3 linked regions of the Homo sapiens genome follow. The protein of the gene in region 1 purifies or fractionates together with the protein of each later gene. This does not show direct contact. Each region holds a gene or a part of one and is shown on either strand. Other genes may lie near its edges. The genes, in order: ZNF843, CELA3A and PACC1.

The links.
Region 2: the proteins of ZNF843 (region 1) and CELA3A purify together in Homo sapiens (affinity purification with mass spectrometry; one large-scale study listed by BioGRID and IntAct). This does not show direct contact.
Region 3: the proteins of ZNF843 (region 1) and PACC1 purify together in Homo sapiens (co-immunoprecipitation; one large-scale study listed by IntAct). This does not show direct contact.

What each region holds. Positions count from the first base shown.
Region 1 is NC_000016.10:31,437,336-31,439,916, reverse strand, and holds part of ZNF843 (zinc finger protein 843), read left to right. Parts: intron 1-2,581.
Region 2 is NC_000001.11:22,004,605-22,008,257, forward strand, and holds part of CELA3A (chymotrypsin-like elastase family member 3A preproprotein), read left to right. Parts: intron 1-842; coding exon 843-940; intron 941-1,057; coding exon 1,058-1,192; intron 1,193-2,273; coding exon 2,274-2,410; intron 2,411-2,768; coding exon 2,769-2,911; intron 2,912-3,653. UniProt on the Homo sapiens protein: Efficient protease with alanine specificity but only little elastolytic activity.
Region 3 is NC_000001.11:212,376,841-212,380,493, reverse strand, and holds part of PACC1 (proton-activated chloride channel), read left to right. Parts: intron 1-456; coding exon 457-599; intron 600-2,787; coding exon 2,788-2,932; intron 2,933-3,609; exon of another isoform or gene 3,610-3,653. UniProt on the Homo sapiens protein: Chloride channel gated by pH that facilitates the entry of chloride ions into cells upon exposure to extracellular acidic pH. Involved in acidosis-induced cell death by mediating chloride influx and subsequent cell swelling.

The sequences.
Region 1 (2,581 bases):
GCTTAGCCTATCTGTGCTGACACTTACTGAAGTATAAGTTATATATAAAACACACCCACTTTAAGTGTACAGGTTGCTGGTTTTTGGTGAATGTGTACACGGGCATAACCATCATCACATTCAGGGTGCAGAACTTTGCCGTCACCCTCTCATGCCCCGTGCAGTCAGCTGCTCTCTCCCTGACCCAGCCCCAGAGAACCACTGGTCTACTTTCTGCCCCTATGAGTAAGTTTTGCTTTTTGTAGAAATGGAATTTCACAGAAATTGAATCATATAGTATGTATTCTCTTGTGTCTGGCTTCTCTGGTTTAACATAATTTTGAGATTCATCCATTGCTTGCAGGTAACAGCAGTTCCTCTTTGTTGCTAGTATTCTGTTACATGGGTAAACCACACTTTATTCTTCCACCCATTGATGGACATTTGGATGTTTCTATCTTATGCCTATTATGAATAAAGCTGATATGCACATTTGTGAAAAAGTCTTTGTGTGGACATATGTTTTTATTTTCCTTGAGTAAATCCTAAGAGTAGAATTATTGAGTCATGTGGTAAGTGTACATTTAATTTACTGTTAACCAAAACTGGTTTCCAAAATGCCCAGGCCATTTTATATTTCCCCAGCAATGTGTGAGACTCCATATCCTCAGGCAACAGTTAGCACCTTCAGTCTGCTCGATTTTAGTGGGTGCATAAGGGCACTCCTTGTGGTTTTAATTTGCATTTCTCGGGTGACTGATGATAGCACATCACTTTTTTTGTATCATTATACTTTTAAGTTCTAGGGTACATGTGCACAACGTGCAGGTTTGTTACATATGTATACATGTGCCATGTTGGTGTGCTGCACCCATTAACTCGTCATTTACATTAGGTATATCTGCTAATGCTATCCCTCCCCCCTCCCCCCACCCCACAACAGGCCCCGGTGTGTGATGTCCCCCTTCCTGTGTCCATGTGTTCTCATTGTTCAATTCCCACCTATGAGTGGGAACATGCGGTGTTTATTTTTTTGTCCTTGGGATAGTTTGCTGAGAATGAGCACATCACTTTTAAATGGTAGCTCACTTCTAGGGAAGGAAGGAGAGCGATGAGTCAAAAGAAGTTCCACTGTTTTTGAGCTTAGGTGTCCAAGAGAATAAAACTGGTGCCACCAACAAAAGTGAAATTAGGAGTCAGTGATTTTTTGGCATAGGGGTATTAAATTTGAAGTGATGGCAGGATGTTAAGGGGGAAATAACTGGGTGGCAGCATGCTTTGCAGGCTTGGAGCTCAGTGGGAGGTCAGGTCCTGAGATAAGAGCCAAGTATCCGCTGAGAGGTGAAGCACAAACGGGGAGAGAGAGAGAGATGAGACCCAAGGATCAAGCCAGGGCTCAGAGTGGCCAGAAGCATCTGTTCCCCAGTCCCCATTTCCAAGTAATGGAAAATCCAGACTGACAGGCCTAATAGGCCTAAAAATAGATAAAATTAGCCCACTTATATATGAGCCACTGGAATACTTTCTAGTCCTATTGCAAACTCTACTCTTGGCTACTTTGATTGTTAAAATTGTAAATTAAAAGTTATCTATACCCTTTTTAAAAAAGAGTTTCAATATGGTTTGTGACAATCAGTTAATTATCTTTGTGGCCTGAGGGGCCCCCTTCTTTTAATCACCTTAACCAATAAAGCAATAATGTCTTTCTGAAGTTGATTCTTTTTGATGGTTTGTGTTTGGATGTTCAAGGTTAATGAGGAAATGATCCTTACCACGCTTTTGTAATTTTAATACAGACAGGGTCTTGCTTTGTTGCCCAGGTTAGTCTCCTGGGCTCAAGGATCCTCTGGCCTCAGCCTCCCAAAGTGCTAGGATTATAGGCATGAGCCACTGCGCCCAGCCTCTTGCTACACTTTCATTCAGGATAAAGATGGTAATATCCAAGACTACTGAAAGTCTTATAACCCCAATCCAAATTTTAAAATAAATCTTACTATTAAGAAGCATTGATTGGCCATGTGCAGTGGCTCACACCTGTAATCCCAGCACTTTGGGAGGCTAAGGTGGGTGGATCATGAGGTCAGGAGTTTGAGACCAGCCTGACCAACATGGTGAAATCCTGTCTCTACTAAAATACAAAAAAAAATTAGCCGGCAATGGTGGCAGGCGCCTGTAATCCCAGCTACTCGGGAGGCTGAGGCAGGAGAATCGCTTGAACCCGGGTGGCAGAGGTTGCAGTGAGCCGACATAGCTAGCACCACTGCACTCCAGCCTGGGTGACAGAGCAAGACTCCCTCTCAAAAAAAAAAAAAAAAAAACATTGATTATAGGAGGCCGGGCATGGTAGCTCATGCTTGCAATCCCAGCACTTTGGGTGGCCCAGGTGGGCCAACCGCTTGAGCCCAGGAGTTTGAGAGCAGCTTGGGCAACATGATAAAAACCAGCTTCTACCAAAAAAAAAAAAAAAAATGCTGGGCCTAGTGGTGTGCAACTACAGTCCCAGCTACTTGAGAGACTGAAGCGGGAGGATCACTTGAGCCAGAGAGGCAAAGGTTGCAGTGATCAGAGATCGTACTACTGCATTCCAGCCTGGGCAACAGAA
Region 2 (3,653 bases), on another chromosome or scaffold:
ATGTGACTATTTCCAGGACATCTTTATTACAAAAACAGACCAGAAGCCTGATGTGCCCCACTGTCCACAGTTTGCTAACCCTGGTCTAGATGGAGCTTTTGAAAATCAGAATGTGTAGGAAATGGGAAGAGAGGCAAAGAACTCATCAGGGTGAGCTGTGCTTCAGAAGGCTCAAGAGGCCTTGAAAGAGCTGAGGTTCAAAAGAGTCAGGGGGGCTGGGCGCGGTGGCTCACGCCTGTAATCCCAGCACTTCGGGAGGCCGAGGTGGGCAGATCACCTGAGGTGAGGAGCTCGAGACCAGCCTGGCCAACATGGTGAAACTCCGTGTCTACTAAAAATACAAAATTAGCCAGGCACGACGGCAGGTGCCTGTAATCCCGGTTACTGTGGAGGCTGAGACAGGAGAATCGCTTGAACCCGGGAGGCGGAGGTTGAAATGAGCTGAGATTGCCACCATTGCACTCCAGCCTGGGGAACAAGAGCAAAACTCCATCTCAAAAAAAAAAAAAACTCACAGGGCGAGGGGTGCGTGATAGAACAGAGGGCCTTCAAGGGCTGTTAAGAGACAGAAGGTAGAGAATGTTGGGGTCCCCAGGGAGGTCATAGTGCTGGTGTGGGGAGGCTTTGGAGAATCAGAATGTGACCCCCATGGAAAAGTGATAGGGCCACCACGGGCAGCTGCCCAGGTCGCAGGTTGTATGCTGCATATTTCAGTGGGTGCTCTCGTTTTCCATGTGAATGGCGCCCTCTAGAGTTGCACAGTGCACAACCTATACAGCCATTGGTGGCAACTCTCATGGTGGGGCCCAGCCCACTGAGGCCCTTTCCTCCTGGGCCACCAGGTTTCCCTGCAGTATGAGAAAAGTGGAAGCTTCTACCACACGTGTGGCGGTAGCCTCATCGCCCCCGATTGGGTTGTGACTGCCGGCCACTGCATCTCGTGAGTTCTCTACCCTGTCCCTGCCTGTGGCCCTGGGCAGCGGGGGAGAGTGGGTGATGATGGGGAAGGAGGGAGGTGAGCCAGTCAGGCCCCGACTGACCTCACCTCTGCCTGCAGGAGGGATCTGACCTACCAGGTGGTGTTGGGTGAGTACAACCTTGCTGTGAAGGAGGGCCCCGAGCAGGTGATCCCCATCAACTCTGAGGAGCTGTTTGTGCATCCACTCTGGAACCGCTCGTGTGTGGCCTGTGGGTGAGTGAATGCTCCGGTCTGGAACCCAGGGGCTCCTCTACTTGTCCCTCCATGACCCACAGCCAAGTCTGAGTAGGCTCCAACTCTGAGTAGGGACGTAGGGACATAGGGACATAGGGACAGGGGAGCTGAGTCCAGCAGCCTGTGCCCAGGTCCCACACACTGAGGATTGAAGCCAGCAGAGCCTTTAAGGACCATCACCACCAAACCTGTCTCCCTACAGAGGGGATGGCAGTGTTCAGGGAGGGGCAGGAACTCTGCCAAGGCCACTTGGCTAGTGGCTTCAGAGCTCAGGGTTCCTCTGGCATCCTTCCCCCATATCCGAGGGTTTCTCCATTCAATAGATGGCTCACCCAGTGCATCCTGGGCTCCCAGCACTATGGGCAAAAGGAGGAGCACTGGGCTGAGAGTCAGGCTCTGGCATTAACTCTGTGTATGGCCTGAGCAAGTCACTGGCCTTCTCTGGGCCTTAGTTTTGCCATTTGTCAAAAGGTGACCATGAAGTTGGGCTTCCTGGGTGGTGTGAAGGCCAAGGAGACAATCTTATGCCTTTCAAGTGTATGAAAAAATCTTAACAAATATTAGCCAGGCGTGGTGGCATGAGCCTGTAATCCCAGCTACTGGAAAGGCTGAGGCAGGAGAATCACTTGAACTCGGGAGGCGGAGGCTGCAGTGAGCCAAGATCATGCCACTGCACTCCAGCCTGGGCAACAGAGCGAGACTCTGACTCAAAAATAAATAAATGAATAAATAAAATTCCTCAGCCTTAAGAACGATTTGGGCCAGGTATAGTGGCTCATGCCTGTAATTCCAGCACTTCAGGAGGTGAAAGCAGGAGGATCCCTTGGCCCAGGAGGCTGCAGTGAGCTATGATTGTGACACTGCACTCCAGCCTGGGCAACAGACCGAGACTCTGTCTCAATAATAATAATAATAATAATAATAATGATGATGAAAGAGTGGATTTGGAGGGTAAAGAAGTTGGGGCATCTCAGAGGTGGAATAGCCTGGAGCAACGGCTAGAAGGTAGGACTTGGGCCGGCTGGAGGACCAGGCCCCGTGACTGTTCCCTCCTCCCCAGCAATGACATCGCCCTCATCAAGCTCTCACGCAGCGCCCAGCTGGGAGATGCCGTCCAGCTCGCCTCACTCCCTCCCGCTGGTGACATCCTTCCCAACAAGACACCCTGCTACATCACCGGCTGGGGCCGTCTCTATAGTACGTGCTGACTTCTCTAGCTGGCCACAGAGACAGTGGCAGAAAGACAGGGCCTGGGGGCTGCAGGTTGAAGGTAACACCAAGACCGGACCTTGTACTTTTCTCCCATTTCTCTCCAGCTGCAGCCTTCTTCCATCAACCTCCAAAACACGAATGTGGTCAATTGCACATGTTTTGGTATCTTCTGTGTGCCACGTGCTAGGGATGTAATGGTGCACAAAGCATGCAGGACCATTTAGCGGGTGGGAGGAGAGTCCTCATCAGGGCAGAAGAACTGTGGGCCTTGAATGCCCCCTTCCTCTGGGGCACCTAGCGGTGTGCCCCCAGACCCCTGACTCGGTGCTTTTTATCCTTGCAGCCAATGGGCCACTCCCAGACAAGCTGCAGCAGGCCCGGCTGCCCGTGGTGGACTATAAGCACTGCTCCAGGTGGAACTGGTGGGGTTCCACCGTGAAGAAAACCATGGTGTGTGCTGGAGGGTACATCCGCTCCGGCTGCAACGTGAGTCAGCTCTTACCTGCCCGAGGTGGTGCTGGGTGTGCAGGACCTTGGAATGGGGCCAACTGCCTGGAAGGTGGAGGAAGGATCTTGCCTGCTTGCCCCATTCAGCCTCCAGGCCAGGCAGGACTTGGAGGAAATCAGCGCAGTCCAGACACAGAGCCCAGGCCTGGGAGTCAGGACCCCCGGGTTGCAGTCTCAGCTCACACACTGACATGACTTGGGACAAGTCACTGTGTCTCCCTGGTCCTCAGGCTTCCGCATCAGCACAGCAGGAGATACTGGTCCCATGACCTCTAACGCAGGTCAATTCTGTGGTTCTAAAGTTATAATTAACCATTAAGAATACCATCATTGTTCTGGGCACAGTCCCTCCTGCCTATAATCCAAGTGCTTTGGGAGGCTGAGGTGGGAGGATTGCTTGAGGCTAGGAGTTTGAGACCAGCCTAGGTAATATAGTGAGATGCCCATCTACAGAAAAACTTTTTTTACTTAGTCAGGCATGGTGGCACTCGCCTGTAGTCCCAACTACTTGATAGGCTGAGGTGGGAGGATTGTTTGAGCCTGGGAGTTCAAGCTCACAGTGGCTATGATTTTTGCCACTGCACCCAAGCCTGGCGACACAGCAAGACGTTGTCTCTTTTTTTTTTTTTTTTGAGACAGGATCTTGCTCTGTTGCCCAGGCTGGAGTGCAGTAATGCCATCATAGCCCACTGTAGCCTTGCCCTCCTGGGCTCAAGCAACC
Region 3 (3,653 bases), on another chromosome or scaffold:
AGAATATTGATATAATTTTGGCTTTCCTCAGCAAGCAAAACCCAAAGCCGTAAAGAAAAGGATTTAAGGTTTTACTACGTTAAATTTAAAGTTTCCATAGGACAAATGACATTGGAAACAAAGTTAAAAGAAAAATGACAGACTGGAAGAAAAGATTGGCACACATAACAGATGAAAGTGATCATCCTTGCTAAATTAAGAGCTTCCATAACTCAAAGAACCAATGAGAAAAGTGGACAGAGGATGAGCTGCATTCAGCTCTGGTTGGGCATCATATGGGGAAAACTCCCCAGGAATGAGCATGAGTCCCAGCCCAGTCCTGTTGTTGGCTAGTGGTCCCTTTGGAGACCACTGGGCAAGGAGCTATGGGCTTTCCAGTCAGTACTTCTGCCCTCAGACCCAGAGGCCTCTGTGTACTCTCCCAGGACTGAGACTCTGTCCTTTTTCTCTCTGCAGAAATCTGCCCTGATTGTCCAGGGGCCCCGGGAAGTGAAAAAGCGGGAGCTGGTCTTCCTCCAGTTCCGCCTGAACAAGAGTAGTGAGGACTTCAGCGCCATTGATTACCTCCTCTTCTCTTCTTTCCAGGAGTTCCTGCAAAGGTGGGCTTTTAGAGTTCACAGTGGGCTTACTGTCTACTTTTTATCTTATTCCAGCTGTGTATGTCCCAAGGCTAGAGACGGAGGGGTGAGGGCAGGGAAGGGAAGGGGCATTCTCAGATGACCCACTGGCCCAGGAAGGGACCTCATGAGCTTGGCCGGTCCACTCAACATCTTATCACAAAGTTAAGCAAATCTGGTGTGGAGGAGCATGCTGGCTCTCCATGCACATAGTGCTGGCTGGTTCTAGAGAGATCATTTGGTCTCACCATTGCCTGGGGCTGCTGAGGAGTAGGGGAAGTTGCCTTTGATTTGTAAGTCCCTTTGAGAGCAAGTTCTTGTGTGGTTCCTTGGTTTCCCCCACAGTGTGCACAGGAACCACATCTTGCCCTTAGTGCGGGCTTAATGTATGTTTGCCTGAAATACAGTTGGTCCTTGAACAACTTGGGGTTTGGGGTTACCAAACTTAACCACTCCTGCCTATGCAGCCAAAAATTTGTGTATAACTTTTGACCCCCAAAACTACTAACAGCCTACTGTTGACAGAAGCCTTACCAATAACATAAACAACACATATTGCGTGGTTATATATATCATAGACTGTATTCTTACGATAAAGTAAACTAGAGAAAAAAAATGTTATTAAGAAAATCATGGCCAGGTGTGGTGGCTCACACCTGTAATCCTACCACTTTGGGAGGCCAAGGTGGGCGGATCACGAGGTCAGGAGATCGAGACCATCCTGGCTAACATGGTGAAACCCCATCTCTACTAAAAATACAAAAAATTAGCCAGGCGTGGTAGCGGGCACCTGTAGTCCCAGCTACTCAAGAGGTTGAGGCAGGAGAACCGATTGAACCCAGGAGGCAGAGTTTGCAGTGAGCTGAGATTGCGCCACTGCACTCCAGCCTGGGCAACAGAGCGAGACTCCAAAAAAAAAAAAAAGGAAATCATAAGGAAGAGAAAATATACTTACTATTCATTCAGTGGAAGTGATCATTGTAAAGGCCTTCATCCTCATCGCCTTCATGTTGAGTAGGCTGAGGAGGAGGTTTGGTCTTGCTGTCTCAGGAGTGGCAGAGGCAAAAGAAAATCCGCACGTGAGTGGACCCAGCCAGTTCAAACCTGTGTTGTTCAAGGGTCTACTGCATCTCTGGTATGAGGATATAAGCTCTGCCACCTCTCTTAGTCTTCGATTTACAGTGATGAATGTCCCCTGACCATCAGAAAGTTCTTGTCTGCTCCACACACACTGCTTTGGGGTCACACCGTGGAGCCTAGAGGGCAGGAGAATTTTCTTCATGTGCCTGAGTTGAGAGGGACTCAGTTCCTACCAGGTCCTGCTGAGCCCAGAGGCTCCATTCAGAGCAAGCAGGGAGGCAGCTACAGGGGCAGGGAGGCTGCTCCCCAGCTGGACATGCAGCGAGCTGCCTCCATTCCACACCACCACTGCTTTGTTCTTCCACCCCAGAGCTCGGAGCCTCTGCCTTAGCATTTTCCACCCTTTCTGCCACCTAGAATTCCCTCTCCCTTCCCTGCTTCAAGCTGGCCATCTTGCCTTCCTCCTGGAAGACTTTCCCCGGGATCCCACCCCCACTCCACGCTCCTTTCGTGAGCTTCCTCGGTATGCTGCTGCAGTTTTTACTTGTTTTTATGTTCGCTTTGATTTTGCTGCATCTGCACCGTCTTGGGGCTGATGCTGTAGGTGACCCATCTGGCTGAGACCTCCCCAAGGAACCCTCTTCCCCTCTTTGGGCCTTCCATGGGAGCTGACAGGCTGGTGAGGGCTTCCTCAGGCTCTGCTGAAGTCCAGAGTTCTCTGAGGAGCTGTGAGCGCCATGTTCTGGGGAGCTTCTGCCAACTTCATTGCCGACAGCTTTGGTAGCCATCGATAGGAATGATGGGAGGAGGGAGGAAGATTTCTCCCACTGGGAGCTTCAAGGATCATGTTCCTGCCTTGAGGCCAGTGACTACCCCTCCATTTGGAAACCAAATGGAGAGAAAAGAGGGATGGGCCTTGCTTTTGCTGGTGACTGACAGCCCTGTTGAGGCAATCACAATTTGGAGAGGAGGCAGGGAGTGGGCAGCATCCTGGTTGTGCCAGCAAAGAAACCAGCTTGCAGTGGGGGCTTCGACTCCTGCTGCCAGACCTGCATTGACCTGGATCTTCCTTCTCCTTCCTTCCTCCAAGCCCAAACAGGGTAGGCTTCATGCAGGCCTGTGAGAGTGCCTATTCCAGCTGGAAGTTCTCTGGGGGCTTCCGCACCTGGGTCAAGATGTCACTGGTAAAGACCAAGGAGGAGGATGGGCGGGAAGCAGTGGAGTTCCGGCAGGAGGTAGGTGGCTCTGGGTTTGCTTGAAACTGCTGGTGACTTTTCCACATTCGAGTCTGAGGTGGAGGGAAGCTTTGCAGAGAAGGCTCCTTTGAGCAGGGCCTTAAGGGTGAGTAGGCCTTGGTCAGGATGAGAAGGGACTCCCATGGAGGGCTTCATATGCTATGCCAGGGAGTCTGTGTGTGCTTCTGCAGGCAGCGCACATACCGGCCAGTCCTCACGGAATGCATGTGTGGGGCAGAGATCATTGTGGCTTGCAGAGAGGTCAGTAACTCGCCCAGCTGTGTCTGATGTCTTGCATCTAGCAGCACTTTGAGGGGCTGGCAGTGGCCTAGCAGATTGATTATTTGCAGGGAAGAGAGACTAGACACAGTGGTCCCAAGTGTGCATGTTGATCCTTTTCCTAAGGTCCTCTTCAGCTCTCACAGGTGTCACAGCGAGAGATGCCAGGTGTATCTCCTGGCTGCTAGGCCAGTGGGCTGAAAGCTTTTTGATCAGATTTCCCATTAGTAAAAACTTTTTGATCATATACTCCATATACATATAACTCTGCAGGTGATATAACATACTATTATTGTCTTAGTGTTATATACACTTTAAACATTCAAAAATAGAAATGTTAAAAGGATGAGATAAAAATAAATAGTAAAAAAAGCTAGTCTTTTCTTCTTGTATCCCAGTGGCTCGGGATGCTCATCTGGAGCAGAAGGACACACTCCAGTCA